Linked DNA regions of Homo sapiens: region 1 is linked to region 2. A link means that fine-mapping ties the variant in region 2 to the expression of a gene that starts in the linked region. Tissue or cell type: blood mononuclear cells. Region 2 holds a variant in brackets; the other region holds the start of a gene. All regions are shown on one strand. Distances are from middle to middle.

Region 1 (5,153 bases), 29 kb before region 2:
CAGGAACCTACCCTGAAAAGTAAAGGAAGTTCCCTGCGTGTTTCTTAATGACACCTTCAAAATATTTTCAACATTCCTCAGTTTAAAGGTCCCAGGACTGAAATTTTAGATGGTGTCGAATTCCCCCGTGGAGATGCTGCTGGGCCGGGCCAGACAGCTACCTCTCTCACACCCGCTTAATTAAGTTGGGATACGAAAAAGAGCAGTGGTGTTTGGGTCAGGCAGGCAGTAGTGCAATGTCTCCAAGTAGCTGAGTCAAGTTCAGCGGAATCCAGCTCCCTGGGGAGGCTGGAGGGTAGCTGGGTAGACTGGGTGAGTGTGGTGGATTGGAGTCTTGATCAGCAAACACTCCGGCCCTTCTTCCACCCCTCCGGCCCTTCTCCCTCCCCACTGCTGCTGAGGACTGGGTGTACTTCCGGCCTCACTGACTTTGAGCTTGGCCATGTGACCTGTGTTGGCCAATGGAATGTGAGCAGACAGGGTGTGCGCAGAGGCGTTAAATGCGCTTGCAAGGTTCTTCTCTCTTGTGCTCCTTTCATTCCTGAAGACAGGAGTATACACCAGGTCACCACTGTTCCTTCAGCCTCGTTCTCTGGATATACAGTTTGGATACATTTAGTTTGAGATGGCTACTATAGATCTAAGCAGAGATCCATGTGATTTGGAGTTCAGGGGGTCTGGGCTGGAAATACACATTGGAATCATCTGCAAATATGTGACATTTAAAGCCTTGAGACAGATGAGCTCACCAAGGTGTGAGTGTGGATGGAAAAAGAGTCCAGTCGAGTCTTGGTTTCCTTCAATATTTAGAGGTCAGAGAGATGAGAAGGAATCAGCAAGAAAACAGACACGGAAAAGCCAGAAAGGCAGGCAGACAGCCAGGCCAACCATGGGCCGTGGGAGCCCCATGGACAGAGGGCTCAGAGTTGGAGAGAGCTATCAAATGTGTCCGACACTGCTGATGGGCCCGTGAGATGAAGATGAAGCCCTGACCTGTGAGTTTAGTGACAGGGAAGTCGTAGGTATCCTTGATGAGAATATATTTTGTGGAGTCATAGGGGCAAAAACATCAACCAAGGGATTCGGGAGAGAATAAGAGGAGAGATATTTGCAAGTTAGACAATTCTTACTAAAGCTTGGTTCAGAAATGAAGGAGAGAAATGGGACTCTAGCCCAAGGGGGTGGTGGCATCCAGAGAGATTTTTTATGGGATAAAAAATAGTAAGTTTGAACGCTGACAGGAAGGATCAAAGAGAGAGAAGAAATTGATGATGCAATAGGGATGGGAGAGTGTTAACAGCCAGTTCACCCATTGTACCAAGAATAAGGTCAGGGATACAGCTTGCATGCAGGTAGGTGAGCAGATAGAGTGAGGGAAGCTTGTGGACATTCTCTTTCAGTTACATTGATTTTCTCAATGAAACGGGAACCCAGGTCGTCAGTAAGAGTAAGCAAGTGGCAGGTGAAGAAGAAAGTATGACAGAGTCATCTAGGAGAGTTGGAGAATGAATGGAGCAAGGCGTGCAGCTTAGATGCTGGCTAGCAGTGACTGTTCTGAGCACTTTGTACTGGCTTTTCTACTAAAGCCTCACAACAGCCTATGAAGTAAGCCCTATTATTTGCCCCATCTACAGATAAGAATTGAAGCACAAAGTGGTCAAGAAACTTGTCCATAGTCCCACAGCAGGAAAGCCAGGATTTGACTACCAGTGATCTGTTTCCAGGGCCCAAATGCTTAAGCACTAGGTTAGGCTGACCCAGTTAAACATGAAAGCTTGTCACAGAACTGAACTAAATAGAATAGAATAAAGGTTGAATTAATGTGTGTGGTGCAACCACTCTGTGTCAAGCTCTGCACTAGATTCCTCTGCAAAAACCCTTTGAGTTGTGGTTATTATCAACCCCATTTTACTGATGAGGACATTAAGGTCTGGAAAGATTCAGTTGCTTGTTCAAAAGTTGAAGAGCTAGCAAATGGAAGCCCACACCATGTATACAGCCCACACACCCTGATTCTAAAGCCCACACCCTGTGTACAATGCCAAAGAACCCTTAGGATATGTGAGTGGGTCGACCTAGCTTAAGTTGCTTCATTAAGCCAAATACATCAAAACCCTCCCTACATCAGGCTGAGATCACTTGCAAACTTTATCCTGAGCACCTGGAGAGCTTGCGACATGGTCCTTACAGCAGGAAGAATTTAAAAGAAGATAACTTTGGGGGAATGCTTGTTGTTTTTCTGACCATTTTTGGATGCTTGATCCGTTAGGTGAGGAAGAGGAGAGCTTAGAGTTGAAGTAGATGATGGGAGTTTCGACATTTTCTTCTAATTAAAACTGTAATCTTTTATAACAGAAGCAACCATTCTGGTTTTTCAAGCATTTCCAAAAACCATTTTCTCAAGAAAGAGTGCTCATAATGTATCATCTTCACTGAACAGCCACCCACTTCCTCAAATGCAAGGAAGCAGACAGTTAAAAAAGAAACACACACACACACACACAAAACCAAGAGGCAGCAGTTGTTTATCACGACCTCAACTCAGTAAGGCCTGAGATTCTTTCGAAAAGGAGCTTTGCTTCCCATGACGCAGAGGGAAGTGTCAACTGGGATATTTCTGGTAAAACTGAAAGCAAGAAAAGCAGGGTGCTAGCCCCTGTGGGACTGAGGGTGGAGGCTGGGGGAGTTTGGGTGCCATCCTCCAGTGACAGATGGATGGACCTTTCATCTAAGAGAAAGGAGGAGACACGTTGGCAAATCAGCCTCAAGCCTAAGATTGCTTGTGAAGCAATCATAAGGAGGAACAAAAACAGACACAAAAACAGAGGGAAAGAGTGAAAAGACAAGAAGGGCGCAAACTGTGACAGACTCACCGCTTCACTAACTACTCACTTAAACTGGAAGCAAAATGTCCCTAAAATTGCCAAGGAACTGGGATTTCAACCTGAAAGTGGAGGCTGCGAAAATAGGTATGGTTGGTGTCTTTTCGTTGCCTCTGTGATTCTTACGTATACTCGAGCACCATTTGCATGTTGGTCTGCAGGGAGCATAGTCTACTTAAAAATGGATCTCGCAGCAAATCTGAGTTTGAGGGACCATTTGCATTTAAGTTGGCATGCCAGGTCCAAGTTCTAAAATGCTGGGAGGGGGTTCTCTTTCATTTGGACAAAACAGTGGGATGGCACTCCTTGGTGTGCAGGATCTGGGGTACTTCGGATGATTTAAGGCTACAGACTACACACAAAACTGTGAGTTTTTAGCATATTCCATTTCCTTCCTGTTTGGAAACTCATCCATATTTTGAATGGTTCTGAACAGGAGCACAAAGACTAGAGTCTTTTGAAGTGCTCAATCTGTAAGTAAATTCAATGGGTGTTCTGTTTTGTGAGCCCAGGAGTCAAGGTGTATTAAAAGGTAGTAGCAAAAGGTAGACAACAAAAACAAGACAGGAACATAAAAACGTACTAAAGTATAATAAAGACCTTACTTAATAAAAATATAATTAAAGGAACAGAATGGGAGGGAATTCTTAGATGAGTTGGAAAAGAGATGTATTTTTTATTATTTTAAGGGAGACTGGCATATTTTCTGAGATAGTCTGGCCTTTAATCCATACCCTGTCCTTCTAATGATGATAGTGATACATTAAGTTTAATCTATATATTCGTTATGAAGTTCTTTACATAGATTTCTTCTATTGCTAAATTGGTCACAGTAATTCACATCAGAGCAATCGGGCTGAAAACTATTGCCTACATTTATGTATCTCACCCATACATGAGATAACTTCCTTGATATTAGATATAGATAAGTATTAAGGTGTTTCTAACAGCTTGGAGGAATTTTGCTTGGAAAAAGGTTTAGATTTGAACCTCTAATGGGGTTAAGTGTGCTACTAAAATAAGTGCTCCATTGAAAAGTCACAAGCGGAGCATTAATGATGTAGGTCTGAGAAAGGGTTTGAAAGAAAACAGAGTAATCAGAGAAGCCATTTATCTTGATAACTAGGGGAGATTAGCGTTCCCTAATCAAGCTGTGAATGATTGTATGCTGAGGTCAGTTCAGAGAAAAGGTAATGTTCATACCTCTTACAAAAGCAAGAGATTTTCCTCCTAACTATCATTGATACAAATGTACTTGGCTAATGCTCAATCTATGTCATACAAATTATATGGTTCTGTTCCTTTGAAAGTGTCCTGCTTCTACATAAATAAGGTCATTCTGCCTTCTCTCCACCTATGTTTGAACACAGGTTATTAGGGTCTTACTCTCCTTTGGTTTAAAAAACAAGAAAGTTGAGACAATTAATAGTTAAATGATTTTTTTCACAGATATAGGAAATTACCACACTAGAGCTCAAGACTGCATATACTCAGGTCTGGGATTTGATTGAGTGAATTTCATGATTTTTACCAATGTTTCTTAAAGCATGGTCCCATAGATAACCTATATCAGACTCACATCAAGTGCTGGCTAAAAATGCAGATTTCTGGGCACCATCCTTACAAAATCAGAATCTCTGGAGGAAGGCCCAGGATCCTGCATTTTGACAAGCACCCCCCACTTTCATCCTCACCTGAGGAAGAATTCCTGCTGTAGGTACTGTGGTCTATGTTCACTAGCCCCAGCAGACAGTTTTCACCCATTTAGTATAGGGCACAGTGCTTGTTCTTAACTGGGCACACAATAAATATTTGTTGGCTGAATGAATGCTTCAGCCAACAAAAACAAGCAGATGATGTTATTTAGTATTACTTAATGAAAAAATAATAATAAGGACATAATGAAATACAGAGGAGCCCTTGTCATTATCCATGCTATCTATAAGTTTGTCACCCTGAAGGACTGGACTACAGTAGGATGCATTTATAAGTGTCACATGAACTAGAATTCAGATCATAATCTGAGTCCTCTGATGGGGGAGAGCCCTTGACTCAGTCACAGGACTTCCAGTCCCCTCTCCAGCATCCTGTGTCCAGGTGTAACTGTAGGAACTGGCTTACCAATATATCAAAGAAACTTACCTCTATTGGGAAGACCTGTGGAACTGGGAGTTATGTCAGGAAAGCTGACAATCTGTGGTTTTAACGTTTTCTCAACCTAGATACCATTGACATTTGGGGTTGGATAGTTTTTTGTTGTGGGGCCTGTCC
Region 2 (5,153 bases):
ATAACAAATGTTGGTGAGGATGTGGAGATATTGAAACCCTTTTGCACTGTTGGTGGAAATGTTAAATGTTACAGCTACTATGGAAAACAGTATAGCAGTTCCACAAAAAATTAAAAATAGAATTACTATCTGATCCCACAATTCCGCATCTAAATATATACTCAAAGAATTGAAAACAGAGTCTTGAAGAGATATTTGTACATCACGTTCATAGCAGCATCATTTGTAATAACTAAAACATGGAGGCAACCCAGGTGTCCATTGACAAATGAACTGACAAACAAAATGTGGTATATACATTCAATAGAATGTATTCAGCCTTAAAAAGGAAGGACATTCTGCAATATGCTATAGCACCGATGAATCTTGAGGACATTATGCTAAGTGAAATAAGCTGCTTCAAAAAAGACAAATGCTGTATAATTCCACTTATGTGAGGTGCTTAGAGGAGACAAATTCATAGAGACAGAAAGTAGAATGGTGGTTACCAGGGCTAGGGAAAGAAGGAAAAGGAAGTTAACTCTGTAATGGGTACAGAATTTCAGTTTTTCAAGATGAAAAGAGTTCTGAAAATGGATGGTGATGGTTGTGCAATAATGTGAATGTACTTAATACTACTGAACTGTACAATCAAAAATAAGATAGTAAATTTTATGTGTGTTTTACTGGAATAAAAATAATTGGGAAAAAATAAATCACGCAAGTTATAATTTGAGAAAAATAGCCCAAGTCAAATATTACAACTCATTTTTCATCTTCAAAAGCTCTCGTATGCTATTAGATGTGCTAAGCCAGAGGGATTTGGAATTAGGACCGCATCCTGGGGTCCCGGTGTTAGCCTGTTGAGTCACCCCCTCATGGTTCTCCTTCTTTTACCTCCTGTTTGTGCATCTCTGGTTCCTGCTTCTTCAGCCTTTGCACAAAAGCTTAGTTGGTCCTTCAGTGACTACTGGCTAAAAACAAACAGAAAAAGAAAAAAGAAACAAAAATGGTGTTCTTCTAGTTCTTCCATGAGAACTGTGAAGGAGTGGCCAGCCAAAAAGAAATGTCAAGCAGAGGCTAGTGTGTGGGCCAAGAAAGTCCAGGTCAGACAGAAACACTACAGTTGCTCACAGATACATACAAAATAAGTCCTGACATTTTTGTGAGGACCTTGGGTGATAAAAGGGAAACCCCCTAACACATTTTTCAGGCAGCTGATAATGTTTGACAGCTTTGAAGAGGAAACAGAACTACCAGATGTCAGTGGCTGAATCACAGGGAAAATACTGCATTCTGCAAAGCCTTACTCAAGCATCATGAAGTGTAGCCCAAAGTTGATAGAAATGCTGATAAATAATAAAATTTTATGAAAAAGTAAAATCTCGATACTTTTTCACAAGTCACTAGCTGTAACCAAGACAATGATGTTGGCTTTTTTGTATTTGATCATCTTTCATGAATTTTAGAATGCTTTCTTTATCAAACTCTAAAAAATCTTTAACAAAATTGCAAAGTGTCACAGCAGTGAAAATTTTCATAAACTTCACAGCTCTCAATTATATGACACAGTAGAAGTATCAGAAGTATTCTGCTGTGTCATTTTCTGTTTCTTTGAAGATTCTCTGCTGTACTTCATCATTTTTCCATATACAGTTAAAACACCAAGCAAATATTTGGCCTGAATCCTAAAAATGTTTAATTCTTCCAATTTTCTGTAGTTGCATTTTCAGCAATACAGAGCGTTCCTTCAATTCTTCCCTCCCCTTTTTTCGGTTTGAGATACACTTTAACACCTAAGAATGTGATCTTCTGTTCTTTATAACTAACATTTAATATAAACTAATGTTGAATTTATCAAAAGCAAGTTCATAATCTTTGAAAACATAAGACTTTTTAAATTATTGATGGGCTAAACCATTTACTAGTTTTTTAAATATTGAAGTATTCTTGCATTCCTGGAATATTCCAGACATTTGAGTGACAAAACAGTCAAAAATCTCTAACTCTGCAGAGTTTCTGGCATGTTTCACCACATAAAAAGTGTAGAAAATTATTCTCATTTTTTCTGCAGAAACTGTTCTACTCTTCACTGTTTCCATGGTGGGTTTTTTGTGTGTATGGCAGTTATATATATTATTTAGTTTCTAATCTTTCTTTTAAAAACTTTACTGAGGTATAATTTATATGCCATAAAATTCCTTCATTGTAAGTATACAATTCAATGATTTTTAGTAAATTTATAGGGTTGTGTGATGATTACCATAGTCCAGTTTTAGGACATTTTTATTACCCCAAAAAGTTCTCTCCAGCCGTTTTGCAATCAATCCCTGCTCTCACCCTCAGTCCTGGCAACCACTGTCTCTACAGAATTGCCTTTTCTGGATATTTCTTATGCACAGACTCATATAATTTGTTGTCTTTTGCATTCAGGTTCTTTCACTTAGCTGAATGTTTTTGAGGTTCTTTGTGTGGCATGAATCAGTCCTTTGCTCCTTGGTGTTGCCAAGTAGTATTGCGCTGTTTGGCTTTCCCACATTTTGTTTATCCAGTAACCTGTTTGTGGCTTCTGGATTGTTTTCAGTTTTGACCATCATCTATAATACTGCTAGAAACATTCACATTCAAAAACTGTTATGGA[C/T]GTGTGCCTTCACATCCCCTGAATAGATTCCCAGGAGTGGAATTGCTGGGTGCTATGGCAAGCTTATGTGTAACTTTTTAAGACGCATCCAGTTAAGGGGTTAAGGGAGGGTAGCTACCCTCTCTGTTGAAGGAAAGTTCATTTTCTTCTTGTTTTTCTTCTTGTGTAGCTCCAGGTTAGGTGGACAGGCACCCTCTGTTCTCACTGGTATCGTGACCTGGTTGAGGAGCCAGCAGGACAGAGCTGTTACTTTTTGTCTGGCCTGACTTTGGGCACCCAGGGTAAACTGGAAATAACATGCCCCAGCCAGACCTCTGTGCGCACTTGGAAGGAGCTCTCAGGTCTCCATCTGTTCCCTGCCTCCATGCTGCTGCTGTTCCTCTCTAGGTGTTGTTAGTGCAGGATTTTCTTGGGCCCTTTCCGCTCCCTCTGGGGCAGGCTGTTCCATATGCATTGAGTTGTGAGACCAACAGCTTTCTTCAGTTTAGCCTTGCCTATCCTACATCTTGCAGAAATCCGTCTTCCCCCCAAATGGCATGCAGATAGAATCCTTCTTTACTTTTACTTTCATTTTAGATCTCCCCTTGTTATTATTGAGCTAGTCCCTTTGTCATTTTAATGGAAATTTGGAAATGGAAGCTCTTGCCATGAGGTCACCTAGAATTCTAGGTGGTCATTCCTTCCTGAGTTCCCTCACAGACCACCCTTGGGCTCCCTCCGGTTTCTGCTGCCCTTTCTCTCTCTCTGCCAGTAAGTGTTGGGGTAAAAGCTGACTTTACAGGAAATACTATCCATACTGGCAGCCTCAGTAAGTCCCTCAGTTCTTCCCATTCATCAGCTGATAAAGTGACAGTGCAGGGATATGGAGGCGGATCTGTCTGGGAGGGAATGTGTACGTAAGTGGTATAACATCTGTGTAGTGTCATTCCGCTGTGCTCTGAGGAGTAACAGGTCTGAAATGCAGACCTTGGAAAATAGACAAGTTGAAGTTTAGAGCAATAGTTGACATGTAAAAAAAAAAAAACCCAACAAGCCTATTGAATTTATTTTTAAGCCTAATAAAATATTTAAAAAGATCATTTATTATATCAACATTCCAAACACAACAGAGAAAATATAATGAACCCCCATGTAGACCCACTACTGAAGTTCAACAGAATATTTCGTCACATTGTTTTATCTATCCCTTTCTTTTTCTTTTATTCCCTTTTATGCTAAGATATTTTAAAACAAATCCCAGACACATTTTCCCCATGCTTAAGTATGCATCCTTAAAAATATGGAAATTTTATTTTCTAGCCACATTGTCCTGATCACGCCTAACAAAACTAATCAATAATTCATTGGTATCATCTATCCTTTATCCATGATCAAATTGTCTCAGTTTTTAATGAAATCTTTTTATCAGGTTGTAGAATAGGAGAAACATATTATGACTCGTTTCCTGGGCCCACCCCACTGCTAGCATTATTCATTGGTCACTTTAACTCTCAGTAGTGTTAAAGTTTAAAATCACTGTTCCCTAAGACCTGTAGAGGCCCCAGAAACTGACTGGAGTGACGTCTGTTAGGCTGTAATGGCTTGTAGCCTCCTCAAGGGCCAGTGCTTGATGGTAGTTGCCAGTACTTGAGCATTGCCCTGGAAGGGTCCTTCCTGTGAATTACTCAGGCCATATAATTCATCCATGCTTATGCAATACAAATATTTCAAGCATCCTAATGCACTTATTTATTTATGAATGCTAGTGACTAGTGAACCAAAACCTCTTACCTAAAATAAATGACTAGCTTTGGCAATGGAGGGGTCAGTACTTCGATTGCTCTTCCTAATGTAACACACCACTAGGGTGTTGGGCAGAGCTTACTGCACTAATTATCCTGCAGTCCTACCTGATGAGAATTGTTCTTCCTTACACTAACGCCTGGGAAAGCAGGTAGCTTGCATATGCAGTTAACCAGCTACATTGTCAAAGAATTTTCTACAGAGAAAATTTGCCCTCTGATTGCCAAATCTCCACTTTGCCTTGTGCTGAGGAAGAGGCAGCTCTGGGGCAGTGTTCTTCCGCAAGCTTCTTGTTATTACACGTGGCTTCCTGTTATGCAGAGACAGGCGGAGAGGGCTGGGTAAGGTGTTGCAACTGATGGAGACACACAGACCCACAAGAGGCAACTGCACTCTAAATTCCTAAGAAACACGAAAGCCACAAAACATGAACACTGGAGGGGTGGCCCTGGAGAGGCACCCTAGGTGAAACAAATTTGCTGGCGTGCAAAAAAACCTTGCAATATTTGTTGCTGGCTCAGGTTTCCAGAGCTGCTGATAAGAAAGAAGTAACAGAAAGCCAGTACTCCTCTCTCTCTCCCCTTCTCTCTCTCTCTCTCTCTTGTTCTCACTCTCTGTCATTCTCTCTCCCTCTCTCTTGTTCTCACTCTCTGTCATTCTCTCTCCCTCTCTCTTTTTCTCTCTCTCACACACACAGATAATTTCTCTCCCTCTGTCTCATATTGCTACCAAGACAGCATTTTTTACCTCT

Evidence for each region. PIP is the estimated chance that this variant, and not a neighbour inherited with it, causes the effect.
Region 1: it holds the start of ARHGAP25, and the variant in region 2 is fine-mapped to the expression of ARHGAP25 in blood mononuclear cells (TOPMed, PIP above 0.99). The same link has a PIP of 0.9 or more in whole blood.

What each region holds. Positions count from the first base shown.
Region 1 is chr2:68,732,292-68,737,444 of GRCh38, forward strand. It overlaps ARHGAP25 (Rho GTPase activating protein 25), which reads left to right and starts at 2,520. Exons shown (of 11, transcript NM_001007231.3): 1 at 2,520-2,969. The coding sequence starts at 2,909.
Region 2 is chr2:68,761,730-68,766,882 of GRCh38, forward strand. The region is part of intron 1 of ARHGAP25 (Rho GTPase activating protein 25); the gene reads left to right. It overlaps LOC105374790 (a long non-coding RNA gene), which reads right to left and starts at 941. Exons shown (of 3, transcript XR_940225.3): 1 at 877-941. The variant C/T (reference allele first, on the strand shown) is at 2,621.